Linked DNA regions of Homo sapiens: regions 1, 2 and 3 are each linked to region 4. The links come from fine-mapping of genetic effects on gene expression. A gene starts in region 4. Each other region holds a variant in brackets. All regions are shown on one strand. Distances are from middle to middle.

What was found. PIP is the estimated chance that this variant, and not a neighbour inherited with it, causes the effect.
Region 1: its variant is fine-mapped to the expression of LRRC28 in whole blood (TOPMed, PIP 0.98).
Region 2: its variant is fine-mapped to the expression of LRRC28 in whole blood (TOPMed, PIP above 0.99).
Region 3: its variant is fine-mapped to the expression of LRRC28 in whole blood (INTERVAL, PIP above 0.99).

What each region holds. Positions count from the first base shown.
Region 1 is chr15:99,227,488-99,235,965 of GRCh38, reverse strand. It overlaps TTC23 (tetratricopeptide repeat domain 23), which reads left to right. Exons shown (of 14, transcript NM_001288615.3): 4 at 886-978; 5 at 7,234-7,433. The coding sequence starts at 7,254. Among named protein-coding and RNA genes, the nearest start is that of TTC23, 18 kb to the left of the region's middle. The variant A/G (reference allele first, on the strand shown) is at 5,872.
Region 2 is chr15:99,218,204-99,226,681 of GRCh38, reverse strand. It overlaps TTC23 (tetratricopeptide repeat domain 23), which reads left to right. Exons shown (of 14, transcript NM_001288615.3): 6 at 4,818-4,941; 7 at 7,634-7,784; 8 at 7,969-8,094. Among named protein-coding and RNA genes, the nearest start is that of TTC23, 27 kb to the left of the region's middle. RefSeq lists an enhancer at 7,569-8,478. The variant C/T (reference allele first, on the strand shown) is at 3,690.
Region 3 is chr15:99,278,380-99,282,379 of GRCh38, reverse strand. The region is part of intron 3 of LRRC28 (leucine rich repeat containing 28); the gene reads right to left. Among named protein-coding and RNA genes, the nearest start is that of LRRC28, 29 kb to the right of the region's middle. The variant C/G (reference allele first, on the strand shown) is at 1,532.
Region 4 is chr15:99,249,427-99,253,426 of GRCh38, reverse strand. It overlaps LRRC28 (leucine rich repeat containing 28), which reads right to left and starts at 1,946. Exons shown (of 10, transcript NM_144598.5): 1 at 1,886-1,946. It overlaps TTC23 (tetratricopeptide repeat domain 23), which reads left to right and starts at 3,846. Exons shown (of 14, transcript NM_001288615.3): 1 at 3,846-4,000. RefSeq lists a silencer at 1,632-2,171 and an enhancer at 2,422-2,471.

The DNA.
Region 1 (8,478 bases), 20 kb after region 4:
AATATGGATGAACTTTGAAGGCATTATGCTAAGAGACATAAGCAGTCACAAAAGGCAAAATAATGTATAATTCCACACATACAAAGTACCTAGAGCAGTCAGATTCAGAGACAGAAAGTAGAATGGGTGTTGCCAGAGGTGGAGGGTAGGGGGAATGGGAAGTTACTGTTTAATGAGTACAGAGTGTCAGTTTTGCAAGGTGAAGGAAATTCTGGAGATGGACAGTGGTAATGGTTGTACAGCAATGTGAATTTACTTAATGTCACTGAACTGCACACTTAAAAATGGTTAAAATGGTCCGGGCACAGTGGCTCATGCCTGTAATCCCAGCACTTTGGGAGGCCAAGGCAGGCGGATCACGAGGTCAGGAGATTGAGACCATCCTGACCAACATGGTGAAACCCCATCTCTACTAAAATACAAAAAAATTAGCTGGGCGTGGTGGTGTGTGCCTGTAGTCCCAGCTACTCGGGAGGCTGAGGCAGGGGAATCGCTTGAACCCAGGAGGCAGAGATTGCAGTGAGCCGAGATCGCGCCACTGCACTTTAGCCTGGCGACAGAGCAAGACTCCGTCTCAAAAACAAAAACAAACCAAAAAAAAAAAAAAATGCTTAAAATGTCCACATGAAGAAAGGGAAAAAAATGAAAAGGTTAAAATGAGAAATTTTATTTTATATATATATATTTTTTACTACAATTTTGTTTTGTTTTGTTTTTTGAGATGGTGTCTTCCTCTGTCTCTCAGGCTGGGGTTCAATGGTGTGATCTTGGCTCACTGCAGTCTGCCCCTCCCAGGCTCAAGCCATCCTCCTGCTTCAGCCTCCGGAGTAGCTGAGACTACAGGCACATGCCACTGCACCTGGCTAATTTTTGTATTTTTTGTAGAGACAGAGTTTTGCCATGTTGCCCAGGCTGGTCCCAAACTCCTGAGCTGAGGTGACCCTCCCGCCTCCACCTCCCAGAGTGCTGGGATTACAGGTATGAGCCACCATGCTTGGCCTTATTTTACCAGTTTTTTTTTTTTTAAACCCTGCCAAACTGTTTTCCAAAGTGGTATACCATTTTACATTTACAGCAACAGTGTATGAGAGTTCCAGTTATTTCCCATCCTCATCAACACTTACTACAATAAGTCTTTTTAATCTTAGTCATTCTAATTGATGAGTGACGTCTCATTGTGGTTTTAACTTGCATTTCCCTGATGCCTAATAATGTTGAATATAAAGCATGTGCTTATTTGTTCTTGGTATATCTTCTTTGATGAAGCGTCTGTTAAAATAAATTGCCCATTTTTGGCCAGGTGCGGTGGCTCACACCTGTAATCCCAGCACTTTGGGAGGCTGAGGCAGGCAGATCACGAGGTCAGGAGATCGAGACCATCCTGGCTAATATGGTGAAACCCTGTCTCTACTAAAAATACAAAAAAATTTAGCCAGGCATGGTGGCGGGCACCTGTAGTCCCAGCTGCTCAGGAGGCTGAGGCAGGACAATGGTGTGAACCCAGGAGGTGGAGCTTGCAGGGAGCCGAGATCACGCCACTGCACTCCAGCCTAGGCGACAGAGCGAGACTCCGTCTCAAAAAATAAATAAATAAATAAATAGATAAATAAATAAATAAATTGCCCATTTGTATAGTGAGCTGTTTTCTTGAGTGTTGAGAGTTCTTTATACCAGTAAGATACAAATCTTACATCAGATACATGTTTATGAAAATATTTTCTCCCAGCCTCTAGTTTTTTAATTAACAGTTTCTCTTGAAGAGCAAAAATTTAAAATTTTGATGAAATCCAATTGGTTATGTTGTTCTTTTAATGATTCTTTTTGGTGGTCATATCTAGGAAAGCTTTGCCTAATGCATGGTCACAGGTGTTTTCTTACACATTGTTTTTATAGTTTTAAGTTTTATATTTAACTCTATGTTCAATTTTGAGTTAATTTTTGTATATAATATGAGATATAGATCAAAGGGGTTTTTTGTTTTATTTTTACGTGTGAATATCTAGTTGTTCCAGTATCATTTGTTGAGCAGACTTCTTTCTCCAAGGAATTGGTTTTGCATATTTGTCAGGAATCAGTTATTCATGTATGTGTGGGTCCATTTCTGGACTCTCCATTCTGTTCCATTGCTTGTCTACTTAACAGCAGTACAAACTGCCTTGCCTACCGTAGCTTTATCATAAATATAGCTCAATAAATCTGTATTTTAGATTTAAATCTAAATTTCACATTTAGATTAAAATCTAAAATCTGTATAGAAGTATTGAGAGTGAACCTTCTTGTCTTGTTTCTGATCGTAGAGATAAAGCATTCAGTCTTTCACTGTTAAGTCTGATGTTAGCTGTAGGTTTTTCAAAGGTGCCTATCAGATTGAGGAAGTATAATTCTATTCCTACTTTGCTAAGAATTTTCATCAGGAATAGATATTAGATATTAGATCTTGTCAAGTGCTTTTTCTATGTTGAGTGAGATCATACAGTTTTTCTTTTTTATTAATATTTTGGGCTTTGGTAGTTTGTGTCTTTAAAGGAATTTGTTCATCTGTATTGTCAAATTTATGGTATAAAGGTGTTCACAATATTCTCATTAACCTTTTAGTATTTGTAGAATCTGTAGTGATGTCATCTCTCTCATTCTTTTATTTGTACAACATGATGTTTTGAAATATGTACATGTTGTGGAATGGCTAAATAAGCTAATTAACATATGTATTACCTCACATATTTATCACTTTTTGTGATTAGAACACTTGAAATCTACTTTCTTAGCAATTTTCAAGGAAACAATACAGTAGTCACCATGTTATACAATAGATCTCTTGAATTTATTCCTCCTCCCACAACCTCCGCTAACCAGCATTCTACTCTCTACTTGTGTGAGTTCAACTTTTGTAGATTGTACATATGAATGAGACCATTCAGTATTTGTCTTTCTGTGCCTGGCTATTTCACTTAACATAGTATTTTCCAGGTTCATCATGTTGTCACAAATGACAGGATGCCCTTCTTTTTTAAGGCTGAGTAGTATTCCATTGTGTATACATACCACATTTTCTTTATCCATTCATCTGTTGATAGACATTTACATTAACACCGTATCTTGATCATTGTCAATAATGCTGCAATGAACATGGAGTGCAGGGATCTCTTCAATATACTAATACTGTTCTTTGGATGTATCACCCAGTAGTGGGATTCATGGATCATATGGTAGTTCTGTTTTTAATTTTTGAGAAACTTCCTTACTGTGTTCCATAATTTACATTCCCACCAACAATGTGCAAGGATTCCCTTTTCTCCACATCTTCACCAACATGTATCTTTCTTTTTTTAATCATAGCCATTTTAACAGGTGTAAGATGAAATCTCATGGATATAATTTGCATTTCTCTAATGATAACAATCTTGGGCATTTTTTCATACACCTATTGGGCATTTGTATATCTTTTGAGGAATATCTATCAGGCCCTTTGATCATTTTTTTTTTTTTTGAGATGGAGTCTCACTGTGTCGCCCAGGCTGGAGTGCAGTGGCTTGATCTTGGCTCACTGCAACCTCCGCCTCCCAAGTTCAAGCAATTCTCCTGCCTCAGCCTCCCGAGTAGCTGGGATTACAGGCATGTGCCACCACGCCCAGCTAATTTTCTGTATTTTTGGGAGAGATGGGGTTTCACCATGTTAGCCAGGATGGTCTCCATCTCTTGATCTTGTGATCCGCTCACCTTGGCCTCCCAAAGTGCTGAGATTACAGGTGTGAGCCACCGCGCCCCGCCAAATTTTTCTTTCTTTATATCCTTACTCTATAAGCTTTTTTCTATTTTTAAAATTTTTTATTTTCTTTTTTTACTTTTTAAACTTTTTTGTTAAAACTAAGACACAGGCCAGGCATGGTGGCTCATGCCTGTAATCCCAGCACTTTGGGCGGCCAAGGCGGGTGGATCACCTGAGATCAGGAGTTCCAGAGCAGCCTGACCAACATGGAGAAACCCCGTCTCTACTAAAAATACAAAATTAGCCAGGCATGGTGGCGCATGCCTGTAATCCCACCTACTCAGGAGGCTGAGGCAGGAGAATTGCTTGAACCTGGGGGGTAGAGGTTGCGGTGAGCCAAGATAGAGCCATTGCACTCCAGCCTGGGCAACAACAGTGAAACTCCGTCTCAAAACAAACAAACAAACAGGCCAGGCGCAGTGGCTAATGCCCGTAATCCCAGCACTTTGGGAGGCAGAGGTGGGCAGATCACGAGGTCAGGAGATCGAGACCATCCTGGCTAACACGGTGAAACCCTATCTCTACTAAAAATACAAAAAAATAGCCGGGTATGGTGGCGGGCGCCTGTAGTCCCAGCTACTCAGGAGGCTGAGGCAGGAGAATGGTGTGAACCCGGGAGGCGGAGCTTGCAGTGAGCCGAGATCGTGCCAACTGCACTCCAGCCTGGGCAACAGAGCGAGACTTCGTCTCAAAAAAAAACAAAATTAAGACACAAACACACACATTAATGTAGGTCTACACAGTCAGGATCATCAATATCACTGCCTTCCACCTCCATGTCTTGTCCCACTGGAGGGTCTTCAGTGGCAGTAACATGCATGGAGCTTTCATCACCTATGATGATAATGGAATACCTTCTTTTGGAATAGCTCTTGAAGGACCTGCCTGAGGCTTTTCTACAGTTAACTTTTAGAAATGTATAAGTAGAAGGAGTACCCTCTAAAATAAGTATAAAATGTAGTATATTAAATATATAAACCAGTAACAGTCATTTATCAACTATTATCACATATTGTGTACTGTACATAATTGTATATGCTTTACTTTTATATGGCTAGCAGCACAATAGGTTTGTTTGCACCAGCATTACCACCAACACATGAGTCAATGCATTACGCTATGATGTTACGACAGCTACTGTATCACTACCCAGTAGGAATTCTTCAGCTGCACTGTAATTTTATGGGACTACCTTTATGTATGCAGTCATTGACTGAAATGCTGTGGAGCTGGACATGATTGTAATATGGAAGCAGCCTTACACATTTGCCCATGTACGTACCATTTCCAAGGTCGTCTGTTTTGTAGAACTAGAGTTCCATTTGCTATCATTTTCCTTCCTTCTGAAAGACTTCCTTTTACATTTCTTTGAGAACATTGTAGTGCAAGTCTTCTGGCGATTAATTATTTAAAATTTTGTTTTCAAAAGGTATTTTCACCAGTACGGAATTTAAGGTTGACAACTTTTTTCTTTCCATACTTTAAAGATAAGAAGTATCTTTAACTCTCTCCTTGTTTGCTTTTTATTCCCCTAAGAAATCTGTTATCATCTTTATCTTTATTTTTTATACGTAATGTGTCTTTTTTCTCTACTTTTGAGATTTTTGCTTTATCATAGTTTTAAGCAATTTGTTTATGATGTTTTGACTTTATTTGGTATAGTTTTCTTCATGTTTCTTGCGTTTAGTGTTCATTGAGCTTCTTGGATCTCTGGCTTTATGCTTTTTCTTAAATTTGGAAAAATATTGGCCATTATTTCTTCAAATATGTTTTCTGTCCCTCCTCTAGTCTGCTTTTCTTTAGGGACTCAAATGACATATATATTAGGCAACTTGAAGTTGTTTTACAGCCCACTGATTTTTTTTCATTTTTGATAATTTTTATTGCTATGTCTACAAATTCATCTTTTCATCTGCAGTATCTTATCTGCCATTAATCCCACACATTTTCATCTTCACACATAATTTTTCTATCTAGAAGTTCCATTTGGGTCTTTTTTATTTCTTCCATGTCTTTATTTAACTTTTTAAACATATAGAATACAATTATTGTAATTGTTTTAATGTTTTTATCTGCTAATTTAACATCTGTGTCAATTCTGGGTC[A/G]GTTTTGATTGATTATTCTCATTATGGGCCATGTTTTCCTGCTTCTTTGGATGCTTGGTAATCTTTGGATGCTAGACTTTGTGAATTTTACCTCGTTAGGTGTTGGTTATTTTAGTATTCCTATGAACATCCTTGAGTATTATCCTCTAGTGCAATTAAGTCCCTTGAAAACAGTTTGATCCTTTTAGGTCTTACTTTTTTGATCTGTGTGGTGATCTGAGCAGTGTTCAGTCTAGAGCTAATTATCGCCTCTACTGAGATGAAAGGCTTCTGAGTACTCTAACTATCTAATGCCTCATGAATTAGAAATTTTTTCAGTCTGGTTGGTGGGAACAGGCGCCAGCCTTACGTTAGCACAAAACACTGTTCCCTGTAACCTTATTGAAGGATTCTTTCTCCAGACTAAAATACTTTTCTTACACACATGCTAATCAGTATTCTGTCCCTATACTTGAGGGTGTCCCTCTGCTAATATCTTGGTTCCTCTGTCTCTGGAGCCTTCTCCTCTTCAGTAATTTGTCCTGTCAGTTCTAGTCACCTTGGTCTCCCCAAACTCTCAACTCTACTTCCTCAACTCAGGTAGTCCACTGGGATAACTTCTGGGTCCCCTCTTCCCTGTGCTGTTTCCTGGAAACTCTCTCAAAGCAATAAACTGGGGTGATTTATTTTTTCCATCTCTCAGGAATTGCTCTCTCATTGCTTGTCTTGTTTCTTGAAACCGTTGTTTTATCCTTTGTTCTGTGGGCTGCTTATCTGTTTGTTTTGGGTTATTTCAGGCAAGAGGATAAATGTAGTTACTAGACTTCATCTTGGCCAGAAGCAAAAGTTGTAACAACAATTATTTATTTTCTACCTCAGGGTCAATTGGGCTTCAGCTGATTTAATCTGGGGTCATTGAGAGCTGTTTGGGCTAAGCTAATTTCTACTGGACTTTAGATATATATATATATATGTACATGCAAATACATATGTATGTGCTAGGCTAATTTCTACTGGACTTTATATATATATGTACATACAAATACATATGTATGTGCTAGGCTAATTTCTACTGGACTTTACGTATGTATGTATGTGTGTAATACATACACATATACATGTATGTATGTGTGTTTATATACATGTGTATGTATGTGTGTATATGTATGTAGGCATATATATATGTATGTCTATATACATAAAGAAAGAAGGTTTAATTTAGTTGAAAGTAGAAATCAGCAGGTCAGTAGTAGCCACCATAATCTTTTGGGATATAATGCTACTAATTTCAAAGAAATTATGGGTATAGTGTTGAAATGTATATTTCTAAAAGTAACTATGGAAATTATCATTTAACATCTTTGTTTTTTATTTTAAAATTAGAAGACAATGTATATAAAAATATGCAAGAATCACAGGAAACCCACATATCCAACCACCTAGATGAAGTTGTTGCTGCTGTTAGCATCACTCATAGAAAGAAGTTCCAAAACAAGCTGCTTCAGACAGCACTATTCCAGCCTCCTCGAGAGAAACTCCACCTCTGTGAAGAGAAAGCAAAGTCCTATTCCAACAGTCATGAGGTAAGGAGACTTTTGTTTCTGTATTTCTACTCTGAGAATTGAGCTATATGGTATAATCAAGAGAAGTAGAATGTTTTGGATTACATTCCTAATCTCAGCAGTTTGATACAAGAAAGTATATAAGACAGTGCCTTTGTTATAACATGAATGAATGCAGTACCTCTAGGCTCCAAGCACAGCAGTTCGCATGGCCAACAACAAATATTTGTTGAGCTCGCACTGTGTGCCAAGTCTAGGCATTGGGATACAACACAAACAAAGCAGATGCAGCTTCTGCTCTCATAGAGCTTGTAATTCCTTATAATCTCAAATCTTGTTCTCTGCATGCTTCTTTCCCATTCTTTCCTCAAAAGTTTTACTCATTCACTAACTCATTCAGTAGGCATTTCTCTATCACCTCTTATATGTTGGGTCCTCTTCATCCAGTCATCATAAATATCTATTGTATGACTAATATGTGCCAGGTGCAATGTAGGTGCCAGGGGCACAGAAGGAAAAGCCACAGTCTTTGTCTTGGAGGGACTCGGGATTTGGTTGGGAAGATAGACGGGGGACAGATAATGGTAGTCAGGTTGATGAGTTCTGTGAGAGCTCGAGTGACATAGATGCAAAACACGAAGGGGTGGACAGTGAGCCTGGAGGTGGTAGAGGGACAGCAGTTAAGGCACACTTTCTTCGGATGGGAGTTACGTAGACTGCACTGGTAAACAGTGCTTAGGAGTTGGACAGGTGAGGAAGAGGACCAAATGTTCTGGACAGAGGTAGCAGATGGACAAGAGCCAATGGTCTGAGGGAGTGCAGTCTGTCTGGGGAACTGTAAGGAGCTGTCTGGGACTAATGTGTTAGTGACACAGGGCAAGAAATGAAGCTGGATTATGGGCAGGAACTGAGGCCCAGAGGGCACTCAAGGCCTAGTGAAAGAGTTTTGATTTTCTCCTAAAGATGATGGAGGATTACCATGAGGTTATAAGCAGAAGCATGCCATGAGCAGGTCTGATTTTAAGAACAGTCACTCCCATAGCTGTGAAGGGTATGGACAAAAAAA
Region 2 (8,478 bases), 29 kb after region 4:
AGGGTAGGCACAAGCAGGACATATCTGAAGCAAGGAGAAGAAGCTGCAAGCTGACATTAAATATAGTGAGAGAGGCTGTCAGTTCACTTAGGGCCTTGCAGGTTTCAAGCTAAGTGCCCTGGAAGGCCTTAAAAATATTTTCAGCATGGTATTAACATGACGTAATTTACTTTTTAAAATATCAGTTTTTTAGTAATTTTGTATTTTAAAATAATTTCTGACTTACAGAAAAGGCACAAGATTCACTCATTTTTAACATTTGCTTTATTGCTTTGTTCTCTGACTCTAATTGTTTTTCTGAACTGAGAGTAAGTTATAGATATTATGGCCCTTTACCCCCAAATTCTTCAGTGTTTATTCCCTAAGAATAAAGCTATTCCCTTACATGGCCACAGTACAGTGATCGTAATTAGGAAATTAATGTCAGTATAATACTATTATCTAATCTGTAAACCTTGTTTATATTTCTTCTTAATAATGTCCTTTACAGAAAACAATCAGACCCATGGTTCAGTCTGTGAATTCATGTTAAATAGAGTTGTCATGTCTCTTTAGTCTCCTTTAATCTGAAACAATTGCTTAACCTACTTTGTTTTTCATGATCTTGATATCTTGGAAATATATACTCTAATTGTTTTGTAGAATATCTCTCTGTTTGAGTTCGTCTTATGCTTCCTCATGATTCTATTCAGATTGTACATTTGGAGCAGGACTACCACAGGTGTGACATGGGGCGCTCCTTAGTGCGTCCTGTCAGGAGGTGCAGAATGTCTGTTTGTCTTCGTACAGTGATGCCAACCTTGAACACTTGGTTAAGGTGCTGTCTGGCAGGTTTCTTTACTGCAGAATTGCCATTTTTCCCTTTGTAATTAATAAGTATTTTGTGGGTAGATTCACTGAGACTATGTATATATTTAAAACTTCACTCTGCCACCTGAATCAGTTATTACTATGATGTTTGTCACATAGCCAGTCTCTGACTTCCACATTATTTCAACATTTGTTTGTTGGCATTCTATTATAAGGAAGAGCTTTTCTTTCTTCACAGCTTATTTATCATTCATTTATTCCTATCAGTATGGGTTCAGGAAATTGTATTTTTCAAATACACTACAACCTGTTATTTTCATGGAAGCTCGGATTGTTCCGTATCTGCCAGTGAGAGACCCTTCCAGCTGGCTCCTGAGTCCTCAATGCATCCCCTTACGGTTTAACCACTTCCTGGCGCTACCACTTGCTGGTAAATCATCTCGACTTTCCAGCCTTAGACTCCTTCATCTTTAAACTGAGGGGACCAGGTGAGATGATTTCCAAGGTTCCTCCCAGTTTTGAAATTGCCTTCCTACTTCGTGCTTGTCTTCTGTCTGCCCCTTACTGATGCCTATTGCTAAAGTCACTGGAACTGGTAGAATAAAGGTTGGAAAACCAATAGGGATATTTGGACCATGCCTTGTAACAAATAAGGACGTGAAGGAAGGACAAGCTGTTTCTTGTATACCTCTATCCCTACTCAGGTCCTGAGAACCAAGGCTATTATCAGGGAAGCCCAACTCAGCCTGCACCGTCCTCTTCGCTGGAAATCTGTAGTTGGGACAGATTCACTATCAAAACAGATCTACCTCTCTTTTTGTCTGTCTGGATTCCATGATGTTGTCATCATTTCCGTGTCTTTCATACACTGTAGTTGTTGTTCTCTTTCTCTCTCTCCAAAGTAGTCATTCCCTAAACTTCCTGTGTCTAGAGGCAATAAAAAGGTGATTCCCAAAAGAAGTACAAACAGCCAGTTAACACATGAAGATGCTCAGCCTCATCAATTTGGGAGAAAAATGTGGACTAAATCAAGGAGAAATGGGCTAACTGACAAACTGACAAACTAAAAACCAAACAAAAACTCCACAATTTGTACTCAGTTCAACGTAAGGGGCATTTCTGCTCACATGTGCTGCGCTGAAAGTATGAACTGGTACAACCTCTGGGAGAGGCACTTCAATAGCTACTCACAGCCTCAGAATTTTGCATATCCTTTATACAGCAATCCCATTTGTGGGAATTTGTTTTGTGGAAATGTTTATGGGTATGTGCAAAGCTATCCATACAGGATATTCAGTGAGTAAGAAATTTACAAACAGCTAAATGCCCAATAAAGAGTGGATTGAGTAATGCAGTTATGATATAGTCATATAATAAAATACTGTGCAGCCATTCAAACTTATATCATAGAAGATGACATGAGAAGTTATTCGTAAATTGTTAAAACAGCAGCTGTAAACCTGCATGTAGTTTATGAACCTATTTTTGAAAAAGAAAAAATATATAAAGATAGATTCACAAAAATAAAGAATAAAGGGATATTTATCTACCTAGATATCTCTAGGCGGTAAACTTACAGGTGATTTTTAGTTTTTATCTTTTTGCTTATCTGTATTTTGACAATGAGCATACATTATTTTTGTAGTAAGAAACGTTACTGTAGAAAAGAATATGACAGTCCACCTTCTTTCAGCACTTTATGGTGAGCATGTATTCCTTAGCTTCCTCCTGCTAGGTCACAAAAGTGACTCTCCTTTGGCCAACTGTCTGGCTGTGTATTTTTGTCAAGAAAAATGTTGTTTTAGGGTGAAGGTATTTCCAATGCATGTAGGAATTGTGTGGAAATGCAAGCCCTTTGAGCTTTGACATTGATGGGCGTGCATCCTAGGTGTATCCTGGATCTTCTTCACAACTCTGTCCTTGTTCTTACCTTTCTTCCTCTGCTTTGACCCCTTCAGCTTTCTTTCTTCAGCCATCTCTCTTGCTGTTCTGACTATCTGTTGCTGCATGACACCCCAATAACTTAGTGGCTTAAAACCAAAACAGCCATTCATTTTTCTCATGAGCCTGCGGTTTTTGCAGAGCTCAGTGGGGTTTGCTCAGCTTTGCTCCGCACAGCATCAGCTGGTCTTGAAGGGTCTGGAGAATCTGCTGCCAAAATGGTTCACTCAAACTATCAGGCCTTTCTATGTGGGTCTTCTCTCCATGGGGCCATGTTGGCTTCCTCACAGCACTGTGGTTGGATTCTGTATTAGTCTGTGGTGCTGTCCTAACAAAATTCCACAGATGCTGTGGCTTAAAGAACAGAGTTTATTTCCTCACAGTTCTGGAGGCTGGAAGTCCAAGACCAAGGTGTGAGCAGGGCTTGATTTCATTCTAAAGCCCTCTCTCCTTAGTTTGTAGATGACTGCCCTCTTGCTGTGTTCTCACATGGTCATTTCTCCATATGCATGCCCATCCCTGGTGTCTTTTCCTCTTCATATATAAGGATACCAGCTGTATTGGACTAGGGTCCACCCTAACACCTCCTTCGAACTTAAATCACCTCTTTAAAGACCTCATCTTCAAAAACAGTTACATTATAAGGTGCTGGGGATTGGGACTTAAATATATGAATTCAGGGAGGTTGGGGAGGAGACACAGTTCAGCCCATAACAGGTTTCAAGAGTGAGTACCCAAGAAGAGACAGAAAGCAAAGCCACCAGTTCCTTTAGACTGTGGCCTGAAAACTGGCACTGTATCATTTCCTCCACGTTCTATTGGCCAAACAGTCATAAAGCCCAGATTCAAAGGGAATGGGACATAGACCCCCATCTCTGAATGGAAGGAGTATCAAATAATTTTGGAGCTGAGGTTTTGTTTGTTTGTTTGTTTTGAGA[C/T]GGAGTCTCGCTGTGTCGCCCAGGCTGGAATGCAGTGGCACGATATCGGCTCACTGCAAGCTCCGCCTCCCGGGTTCACACCATTCTCCTGCCCCAGCCTCCCGAGTAGCTGGGACTACGGGCGGCCGCCACCATGCCTGGCTAATTTTTTGTATTTTTAGTAGAGATGGGGTTTCACCATGTTAGCCAGGATGGTCTCGATCTCTTGACCTTGTGATTCACCCATCTCCGCCTCCCAAAGTGCTGGGATTACAGGTTTGAGCCACCACGCCCAGCCTGGAACCGTGTTTTAAAACTGCCAGCTCTGCTTTGAGGATATGGCTGCTCTGAGATCACCTGGAGCTGGGAATCCAGTTTTCTGTTCTTTTTGTCCTATCCCTGAATGAAACTGTGCTTCTTGCTGCTTTAATCAAGTCTGTAAGTCCTGCTGATCTCATTTGCTATGCTAGTGCAGATGGCTAAGGAAAGTTTTGAATTGAGAGCTAAACTATAGTATTTGACAGCCTGGGCAACATGGCAAAATCCCATCTCTACCAAAAATACAAAAAACTAGCCAGGTGTGGTGGTGCACACCTGTGGTCCCAGCTGCTCAGGAGGCTGAGGTGGGAGGATTGCTCGAGCCCCCTGGAGGTCGAGGCTACAGTGAGCTGATATCGTGCCATTGTACTCCAGCCTGGGTGACTCCAGGTGAGTGAGACCCTGTCTCATACACACACACACATACACACACACACAAAGTGTACTATTTGAAAACACTACCATTTGCCCCTGTTGTGCCTGCATATGTAGTAGCTGTTCATTGGTGGGCAGCTGGGAAACCTAGAGAATGACTAGATGTCTGCTCTACTTTTTCTATTTTTTAAATTCTATTTCTTTTTTTCACCCTTAAATGTACTATAAATTGTACTTCTTATGTTTATTGTCTGTTTCATCTTACCAGATGTACATGCTACCACCCCAAATAGATCTTTGTCTGTTTTGTTCTCTGATACATCTCAAGTGCTTAGAACAATGTTTTGCACATAGTAGTCACTCAGTATTTATCAAAGGGATATAAAAGCGCATTGATTTTGTGTTTTGTGACTCTTAAGTTGTATAACTGGTAAGCCTGTTTTCTCTTCCTAACAGTACAAACAGGCCGTCCATGAGCTTGTGCGTTGCGTAGCACTGACAAGAATTTGCTATGGAGACTCACATTGGAAACTAGCAGAGGCACATGTTAATCTGGCTCAAGGCTACCTCCAGCTGAAAGGTAAGCTCGCCTTAGACTGAGGGGGATCAGTTGGTCGATTTCTGCTGTTCTCCCCAAAATTTGATTCACACTTAATTAGAAGGATCAGGTTTTTTAATATTCTCCTTTCTAAATACCAAGAAGCCATTTCTTTTTAGAAAGAGTTGATAAGGTATATAACCTGTAAACATTCAAAGGGGAAAAATGGAAAAAATATTTTAACTTTTCTGGTTTTTTTGTTTTTGTTTTTGTTTTTATGATTTCAAAAGTAAGGTTCTTAGGAGAAAATTAATCTGTTGGGCCAGAAGACTTTGTAGGAAAAAACCCAAGGTATGGAATAGGGGCCCAGAATGGGATCCATTCACACTTTTATTGGAGAATCTCTTGACTGTAAATAACCAAAAAATTTAAAAAGACTAACCCAAATTGGCATAAACAAAAGTTTTTGGCTCATACAACTTAAAAATTCAAGGGAAAAAATTTTTAGACTTAGCCATATCCAGTGTTCAAACAATGTGACCAGGATTCAATTTTTCTCTCTCCCACTGCTTGGCTCTGTTTTTCTTGGTATTTGCTCCATTCTTTGCCAGGTTTTGCCCACATGGTGGCAACAAGACTGCCTGCAACTTTAGACTTCCCTTATAAGCATTCCCAGGAGGAAAAGAATGTCCCTCCACCAAAATCCCGGGATTTGGGAAGGGTTCTAATTGGAACAACTTGGGTTGTATACCAAAGGCAAGGAATAGTCTGATTGGCTAAACCTTTCTTTTGGCTTCATTGGATCCTGAAGGAGAAGCAGGCCTTCGCCACATCTCATGGATTGGATGTGCAGGAGCCAGGCATCCCAAAAGGGAAACAGAGGGGAGAATGCGTGCAGGGGAGGCAAAAACAATAGACACCCAGGATATGATGATGGCTTCTACTTACTGACTGTGCAGCCTAAGACAAGATGGACAAGAGCATCTCTGTGCTCAGCTTCTTCAGCTGAAAAGTGATGATGATGGTAATGGTGATGCTAACTTTCCAGGGTTGGCCCAGTGAATAAAGAAAATAATAGAAGTGGAAAACACCAAATGCCAAGCATATTCTATACCAAGCGTATTCATTATTGCCACCCAATAAATTTGGCCAAATCTGATTATAGACTGGTCCTACCTATTAGATCAAAGGCTCTTAGGGACCTTGGAGATTATCTAATTTAAACTCTGCCCTCCCACCCCATTTTGTAGATTCAGGGAAAACAATGAGTCTGAGTTAGAACAGCTTTCCCCATACCACACTGTTAATAAGTAGCTGATCTGAGACTCAGACCTAGGTTTTCAATGCCAGTTTGTCCTGCCATCTGGGGTTTCAGACGATGCTTTTCTTATACAGCCTGCTGCCTCTCTGCGTGACAGTCCTTCTTTCTCAATTTAAAGTAAAAGTAGTATCTACCATTTATTAAAGTCTCATTTGGTGCCAGGCATGTTGTTTTCCATGCATAACCTTATTCAGTCCTCACCACAGTCCTCAAAGGTGGGTATTTTTAATATCCCTGTTTACAGCTGAGAAAGCTGAGGCCAACGTTTTATAATAAGTGGTGGAGCAGGGGATCCATCCTGGGCAGTCTGACTTCAGAGCCAATGTTCTTGAACTTCACCCTATGCTGCCTCCAGTAAATTGAGTTCAGGTTCCTTCAGGGACTCGACACAGTTGAAAATACAGTCCAACATGCTTTGTGTAACATCACAAGCACAGGTGGCACTAATACATGTCTGTGCTTTTTAAAAATATGTAATAAGACAATCTTGTGTAAGAATTCCCACATGAAACACATACCCTTGATTTTCTCCATTAGAAAATATATTCTTCCTGTTTTATAGACATAGGAACAGAATTAACTTCATATTTTGACAGATTTTTTTAGAGATCTAAGATACAATTTTGTGTAACTAAGAACATAAGATGGGGGCTGTGTGTATGTGAGTGGAAGTGGTTGTCGGTGTAGGGGAGGAGGATGGGAATACAGGGACGTGCAAAGCCCTGAAGCCGTGCTAGCGATCTCAGTCCTCCCTTCCCACAGATTAACAAGCCCGTGGAGGAACACTGGAACACACTGGGGAATTCTTTCTTAGTAGTGATTTTTTTTTGCTCCACTTTGTTTCATATTAGTCTCTTACCACATAGGAAGATGAAATTGTCACACATTAATCTGTTACCTCACTGGAATTGTGTTTGTAAGTTTTTGTAGATATCAGATATGTATTATGTTAAAAAAATAACTCTCTGACATTATGATTATAGGTGGGTGAGCTGAAGATTCAGAATTTTTAGTATTTCATTAAGATTGCAGTTACACAGCCAGGATTAAAATTCATGAATATTTTATTTCCTGCTCAGAATGCTATAGTTCTTGTATTCAGTTTGTTTCTTATAATTATATGTAACATATTTTGCTTCTGCTATTGGTGAGGTTTCAAAGCTGTTCAATTCCAGCTCATTTTGTTTATTTCTAAAAAGGCCATTTGGGGGAAAATTTATCTTGGGTACTTGGTATAAAACACTTCTTTGGTTGTTACAGTCATGGCAGTGTTTCATGCTGCCCAGATACGTCTCCATGTGTCATTTGACAATATGTGAAGGAGACCTTGTTAGATTCCCAGACCATAAGGAACTGTATTCCTGTCCAGTTGAGATGATAGAGAAACTGAGACCTCTTTTTCTTTGTCCACAGGACTGTCACTGCAAGCAAAACAACATGCAGAAAAAGCCAGACAAATCCTCGCCAACTCCATTGTGCCTCCCTATAGTGAGAATACAGATGTTTTCAAGTTTTCCATTGAGCTTTTCCATACCATGGGCAGAGCTTTACTCTCCCTTCAAAAGTATCCTTTTGCCTCTAACTTTTACAAATAGAAATACTATTCACGTAACACTTACACGCCAAGTAAAAAGCTGATGCTGATGGATGACTTAGGAAGTGTGATTGGAAGTATGGGAGCCAAGGAAGTTCAGGACATGGGGTGTAGAATCTAGAACCAAGTGGAAAATTTCCTGAACACAATTCAGATTTAAGGAAGCTGCAGAGAATTTGACAAAAGCAGAGAGACTTTCAAAGGAGCTGCTACAATGTGGAAGAATTATAAAGGAAGAATGGATAGAAATTGAAGCACGGATCAGATTATCATTTGCACAGTAAGTTTCAAGTTTAGGATTTTGCATACATGATGGCGGGAGGCTCTTTGCCTGTAGAATCTGTCTCAGGTAGGAGGAGCATCTCCATGAGGCTGCGGCCATGGCTTCTCTGGAGGTCACTGTGTAAAAGTAAAAGAGGAACACAGTCATGTCAGAGCAGCCCCAACCAGGGCATCCATCAGTGACACTTTTCACTCTCTGTGGAGTGCCCTGGGTCCCAGAGTTCTGATCATTATTCTCTTGACTTTCGTTTTACCTGCTCTCCCTCCTCACCCCCAGCCCCTACACCCTTCTCTTCCTCCCTCCCTTCCTTTTTTCCCTGCCCTGCTCCAGTCTAAAATGCTTCAACAGGTTGAGTTTATGATGAAAGCCTCAAAGGAGAAA
Region 3 (4,000 bases), 29 kb before region 4:
GAAAGGAAGTAAGCCACACAATCTCCCTAGCTTTCACCCTAGGGGCAAATTCTGGACTGTAGAACAGGAAGGAAATCCCAAAGTACAGAAGTCTTACTGAGTTATGGAGACACATATCAGAGTTCAGGGAACCTGAGGCAACTGGAAGTTGTGGGGTAAAGTTCTGAAGAAGAGAGAGCTACTGCTACAAAAAAAAAAAAAACCTCCAAAAATTTGCATAAGGAATCCCTTGGCCTCACTCATAGCTGAATTCTAGAACAAACACACATAAGAAAAACTCTAACAGGATACAGTGGGTCATGGGTCATACCTGTAACCCTAGCTACTTGGGAGGCTGAAGCAGGAGGATCACTTGAGGACAAGAATTCAAGACCAGCCTGAGCAATATAATGGGACCCCCATCTCAAAAAATAATAGAAGAAAAATAAAAGGTACTCCAGGCAAAAAGCACCTGAAAATCAATCAGCTGAACAGCCTGCAAAGCTCACAGTGTTGAGAGACATTCAAGTTCTGAGCAAGTATGCCAAATCCTTGTTGATCATTTGAGGTATTCAAGAGAGATCCTGGAAAGCTCATGCTTTAGTAATAGGGCTAACCTAACCACCTATCCTAACAAAGTATAAAAATAAGCCATAAAAGGATCAAAGTAAACTGCAAATAGCTGCATGCCAGAAAAAAGGGACACAATAAAATTTAGACTCTCAAAAATGCAAACTTTATAAGGTCCATCCAATCAAAAAGTATTAGACATGCCAAGAATCAGGAAAATATGACCCATAACCAGGAGAAAAATCAGTCAGTACAAATAGAACCAGTATGACACAGATGACAGAATTAGCAAACAGGACATTAAAATAGCTATAATAACTATATTCAGCTATTTAAATGAAAATATGAACATTATAAGAACTGTAAGATAAAGAAAAATAAACAGAACTTCCAAATATCATAAATACAGTAACAGGCTGGGCACAGTGGCTCACTCCCATAATCCCAGAGCTTTGGGAGGCTGAGGCAGGAGGATCACTTGAGCCCAGGAGTTTGATGTTACAGTGAGCCATGATTGCATCACAACACTCCAGTGTAACTCCTGGGTGACAATGTAAGACCCTGTCTCAAAAACACACACAGAAAGCCAGCCTGGGCAACACAGCAAATCCCCATGTCTATGAAAAAATTTAAAATTTAGCTGGGCATGGTGGTGCATGCCTGTACTTCTAGCTACTTGGGAGGCTGAGATGGGAGGATCCCTTGAGCCCAGGAGTTCAAGGCTGCAACGAGCTAGGATAGAGCCACTGCACTCCAGCCTGGGCGACAGAGCAAGACCCTGTCCCTTAAAAAAAAAAAAATACAGTAACCAAAGAGAAAACTTCACTGAGTGGGATTAGTATAGTACATTAGACACTGAAGAAGAAAATATTACTGACTTTTAACACAGAACATACAATTTGTCCAAACTGAAGCACATAGGGAATAAAAGTCTGAAAAGGAAATGAAAAGTCTTAGTGACTACGAGACAGTATTAAACAGT[C/G]TAACAAACAGGTAAGAGTTCCACAAGCAGGGGCCAGGAACAGGGTATATAAATAAATATCTGAAAAAACAATGTCAAAAGTTTTCCAAATTTGATAAAAACTGTTAAGACACAACCCCAAGAAACCCCATGAACCTCAAAGGTAAGAAAGAAGAAAACTACAACAAGATACACCTAAATCAAACCCTTAAAATTAGTGTAAAAAATGAAAACCCTTCAAAGTAGCCCAAGGGAGAAAAAGACACATACACACAAAGGAACAAATATAACAACTGTAGATGTTTCTTCAGAAACTATGCACGCCAGGGAATAATGAATATCATGAACGTGCTGATAACAACAACAACAAAAAAAATGGTCACTAAGAATTCTAATCCCAGAAAAAAATTTTAAAAATATAGGTGATAAATGTACAATAAAAAACTGTAAGACTTTGGGGTGGGGGCGGGGAAAGGAGAGAGTCTTTGGGACCTAGGGCTAGACACAGAGTTTTTAGACTTGCCATCAAAAGCATGACACATCAAAGCAAAAAATGATAAACTGGACCTCATCAAAATGTAAAACTTTTGCTCTGCAAAAGAACATAAACAGGATGAAAACACAAGCTATACACTGGGAGAGAATATTTGTAAACAACATATAGAACAGAAAACTAGTTTACAAAGAACTCTTAAAACTCAGAAATTAAAAAAAATACAATCAGAAGATGAGCAATAGACATGGACAGGCATTTCACCAAAAAAAGATGCCAATGACAAATTAGTATACAAAAGGATGTTCAATATCATTAGTCATTCTAGAAATACAAATGGAAATTCCAATGTCATAAAAACCACATATCTATCCAAATGACTAAAATAACAAAGACAACACCAAATGCTGGTAAGATGTGCGGACGCTGGAACAATCATACATTGCCAGGGGAAATGTAAAATGGAACAGCTAATCTGGTAAACCGGCAGTTTTTTACAAAACTAAAAATTTTGAGCAACAGTGGTAGAGTAAGAACCTCCAAAAATTCTCTTCCATAAAAACAATGAGAAACTGTCAGAAATGTCCAAATGCTACATGTTGAGAACTCTGGAAATGAACCTAAGGCTTACCATAATACAGGGAGAATTTATCCAAGAAAAAAATGACTGAGCGTCAGTAAGAACCGTGGGTTGTAGGCTTCATGGTATTTTCGCTTGCTCTAGTCCTAACCCCACTCTCCTGCTCTGCAGAAGCCTGAAAAACCAACAGTTCACAATCAAAGAGAAAAGCAGTAGCAAGGGGGTAGGACCACGTTAGAGTGCCTTCAAAGCTTCCTTCTCAGAGAACTGTCAAAGATTTGTCTCAAGGTTCCCTGGAAGACCCAGTTGCAAGGCTGTCTTTATTCCGTCTGAGTAGCAGATTGCCCAGGGCAAAAACCACTGTAAACTGAAACAAATTACAGGCAATTGTTTAACTTCACAGCTGCTTGAAACAGTTGTAACAAACAACTGACAAACCACAAACTGTAAAAGGAAAAGCTTTCAAAATGTGGAAACCACTCAAATGTCTATCAACTGATGAACAGATAAACAAAAAGTCATGTATCTATTCAACGGAATATTATTCAGCCATAAAAAGGAATTAATTCTGATACCTGCTACAACATGAATAAACCTTGAAAACATTATGCTATGTTAATGCAGCCAGATACAAAAGGTCACATATTGTCTCATTCCACTAATATAAAACATCCAGAAAAACGTGTATCCATAGAGACGGAAAGTACATTAGTGATTACCAGGGATTGTGGGAAAGTGTATACTCTCTCTTGCTCTTTGGCTTGCTTGCTCTGATGGAAGACAGTTGCTATGTTGTGAACTATCCTACAGAAAGGCCAAATGGCAAGGAAATGAGGGAAGTGCTCTAGCCAACATCAAGCAAGAAATGGAGTCCTTCAGTTCAACAGCCTACAAGGAATTGAACCTGACAACAACCACGTGAATAGAGGAAGATCCTTCTTCAGTTAAATCTTCAGATGAGACTGCAGTCCTGGCCAACAACCTTGACTGCAGCTTCGTAAGAGACCTGGAGGCAAAGGCACCCAGCTAAGTCAGGCACAGATTCTGGGGCCTCAGAAAATACAAGACACTGAATGTTTATTCTTTTAAATCACTACATTTGGGGGTAAGTTGTTAAGCAGCAATAGATAATTAAAAAGGTGAATATTTGCTTAACACAATAGACTACAGACACTTTAACTGTAAAGCCAGCATCTTTCTTAATGGGGAAACCCTAGAGGCATTCCCAGCAAGATCAGAAAGAAGACAAGGGACCAGGTGCAGTGGCTCACGCCTGTAATCCCAGCACTTTGGGAGGCCAAGGCAGGTGGATCACAAGGTCAGGAGTTTGAAGCCAGCCTGGCCAAGATGGTGAAACCCCGTCTCTACTAAAAATACAAAAATTAGCCAGGCGTGGTGGCGGATGCCTGTAATCCCA
Region 4 (4,000 bases):
TCCTGAGACCGGGCGCAGTGGCTCACGCCTGTAATCCTAGCACTTTGGGAGGCCGAGGAGGGTGGATCACCTGAGGTGAGGAGTTCGAGACCAGCCTGGCCAACTTGGCGAAACCCCATCTCTACTAAAAATACAAAAATTAGCTGGGTTTGGTGGCGGGCGCCTGTAATCCCAGCTACTCGGGAGACTGAGGCAGGAGAATCTCTTGAAACCGGGAGGCGGAGCTTGCAGTAAACCGAGATCGCACCACTGCACTCCAACCTGAGCGACAGAGCGAGACTCAGTCTTAAAAAAAAAAAAATCACTTCCCTATCCCAAAGTAATTCCCCTGGTGTTCTTTCAGAGGAACTTGGCTGTTTGTTTTTTCTTCGTAGGACTCCTCACAATTTGTCACTTAAATATTTATCGTTGCATCTGTCTATTGTCAATAAAGCCAAAAAGCCTGTAAATAAACCCTTCCGAAACTTATTTAGAAATCCTGAGGGCAGGGACTGCGTTGTTTTCTTCACGCTTGCATACCTGCATCTAGCACAGTAACTAAAAGTAACCCTTCCTAAAACCTAGGTGATGGGTTGACAGGTGCAGCAAATCACCATGGCACACGTTTACCTATGTAACAAACCGGCATATTCTGCACATGTATCCAGGGACTTAAAATTTTAAAGTAGGCCTTCTAATATCTGATGACATGTGGAAGAACATTGCAAGGTTGATTTTTCATCCAACTATGTCAAGACCACGGATAGAGCCTATAAGCTTGCTACATGCCACAAGGATGTCTAATCTTTACAACCATGCACTGCAATAGACATTATGTAGCCCGTTTTGTAGAGGAGGAAACTGAGTTTCTCAGAGGGTAACATGCCATAGTTCCATCGCAGGTGGACTGACTACAAAGCGTGTGCACCGCCGCCCTATAATGCAAAACCACACTCACTGAAGGAAGATTCAATAAGACAGTCCCTGTAACCTGACGGCTTTCCTTCTGAATGTTCTGGCTGGGATTGGCTGCCTCAAAAACACCATTACACTCTGTTAAAATTGCTACAAAGGCTGTTTGGGAGATAAAATCTAAACAAATGAAATCCTAAAACTGCCAATAATAGCAATAAAGCATCAACAATGCTCACAGTTTTGCAGTATGCATTCACGGGCCATACACAGCCTTTAACAAGGTAATTTTCTTACCCCATTTCACTTGACTACATCTTACCTAGTTAAGCAAACTACCTCTTGTATAGTTATACTACCTCTTATGTAGTTAAGGCAAATAGTATTACTTAATATCAGCTGTATACAGCTGCACTTACACACGAGCTTTCTGACAGGTGAACACCAATCTATCTTATTATTAAAAACAAAACAAAAAAATCAAAAACCTCTCAACAAAATTCCACACATATTAAGGAGTATTTTGAAAGGAAGGAGTCCCTTATACTGACCTCCCCGTACTCAATTTAGTAGAATACGCATTCCAATTTCCTAACGCTGGAGATTAGAGAACTATAAGCTACATATTAAAAGCATTTGTAAAAGGCTATTTTCTCAGCTGTGGTAACAAACACTGGCAGAGTCTTAGGCAAAACACACGCCGTTTCGCCCGAGTTAGCCAGCCACTGAGATCGTTACAGTTGGGAAGCAGCGAGCCCAGCAGCAGGGATTTCACGGACCCGGTATCAGGGTTCTCGGGTCCCAGGGGCCGCGGGCCGCAGAGTGGGAGGAGGACCCGGCAGCTGTGGCCACCCGAGGCCCGGACGGCTCCGCTGTCCCACTCGCCGCGACCCGGACGCTTTGGCAGGACCACGTCTGGGGCGTCCCCGCCGGGGGGCCGGGTCAGAGAGCCTCGCCACTTGAATCACCCGACGAGGCGGACAGCTCTACTCACCTCAGCGCCAGCAGAGCCAGCGCTCCGGAGCGCAAGCGGCGCTGGAAGCCAAGCGGGGGACGGCGGGCGGGGCGGGGCAGGGAGCCAGGCGAGGGCGGGGCGGAGCGCCGGGCGTCGGGGGCGGGGCTCCGGGGGTGGAGCGGAACCCGCGCCAGAGGGAGCTGGGGAAGAGGGAGCGGGAGAGGAGCACGGAACCTCGCGATAATCCCCTGTGTTCTCGCGCTTTCACGATAGGCGCGGGAAAATGCTCGTTTGCCAAGCGATCTGTGTATTGGCCGAGAGCGCTACTTCCTCTATGCTGGCCCCGCCCGCGGCTCTACTCTTGCTTCCGGCTCCGGCGTGGGGTTTGATGTCGACGGAGTGGCTTTTGCTTAGCGTCTTGAAGGGGTAATTTAGTCGGCTCCAACTTCGGGAACCGCCAGTTACTGACCTGTTCCTTCATTCATACATTCATTCAGTCACTCGGCTTCTCATTCAGAGCACACGTTGAGGGATTACAACAATGATCCCACGTTGAGCGTTCGTTCTAAGAGCTGTTTATAGATTATCTCGTTGAACCCTTGACAGCAATCCCATGACACAGGGACTAACAGCGCCAGTCTGACCGTTGAAAAACAGGCCAGTGGGTTTATGTAACGAAGCCAACGTTATTTAGCAAGTAGTGAGTCTAAGCACCGGATTTAAGGGGTCACTACGAACTGGTAGATAACAAAGATGAGGAGGACGTAACCTAGTCTCTGCCCTTCAAACACCCAAGGTTTATTTTGAGTAAAGATTGCTAAAAAGGTCAGGAACAATTTAGAGAGTTAAATACAATGACACTTCCTAGCCTGACTGAGTAGGCCGTCAATATGTATTTCTTCAAGACGAAAATTATTATGTCAGCGAAATAGCATGAAAGAGGGCTTTATGCTGTTAAAAATACTTGGAAGCATAGTTCGGAAACATTTTTAAAAGACACTTTTTAAAGTGTCTCATTAATATGACAAATTTCCTTCTGAAATGAAGATTTTAAAGTATAATCCTCTACTACAACCGCTGATATTTTTTGTTCTGTGGAAAGCCTGTCTATGAGTTTGCGAGGCTCCTTGTCAAGGAACTTTAACTTTATAATGAAGTAGTTTTTACAGTTGCTGACTTAATTATTCATAGAGACGAATAACCTAGAAAGCAGAGTTATATTAAATAAAAAACATTGGTTTTAAAACAAGGTATGAGTTATAATAAAAATTATCAGTTATCTATTAAATCTGGTCTTCAAGAGCTATTCAGGTATACAGCATGGTTGGTATATGTCATGTATTTCTAAGATAGTTTCGGAATACCTAAGAATTCGTGGCACTCAGAAATTTTTTGCTGGTCTTAAAATGAGGAAATCCACATTTTGTGTAAAAACAAAGATACGGTGTTTAATGGTCAGCCCAAATAATAAGACTTGCTGCTAATATATGAAGAGTTACACCCCCCAAAAAAGAAAAAAGATTAACAGTAGAACAGTTTTTTGAAAACAATGTTAGCCTCTTAGTTTTCATTTCTTTTTTTTAATGGGGAATACTGTTTTTCAGTGATTAATATCTGATATTTGATCATGAAAAATGAATCATGTTAAAATAACCTTCACCTCCTCCCCACATTGACACAAAAGTTACCAAGTGATTATATTTGATAATACTTTATGACCCCACTCTTGAAGTTCTCACAATTTGTAGAGAATCAATTCGCACGTTTTGTCTCTCTTAAAGGGGAAAAAAATCCTCTAAGCTGGTGATTTCACGTTCTTTGACAAACTTCAATATCAACAGGCAACGATACCACTTTAAGAAAATTCCAAGGAAAAGACCTCATTTTAAAATTCCCACCTCTGGCTCCCAAAGATTGGTTTGCAAACTTCGACAAAATACTCTTCTCCACTCGCTATTGGTGAGTGCTCTATCATTCATTCTTTTGCCTGGAGTTTTGTGAGGTACCCGCTTGCTTTATGGGAAAAGGCTGCTCCGGAACTGCCCTACTTTAGACTTTTTCATGGTTATCAATCTGTACAAAGAATCACCAAACTGATAAAGCAGGAACCAGAGGGCAAATCACGCTGCCAAGACAACTGTGTAATTCGCTCGA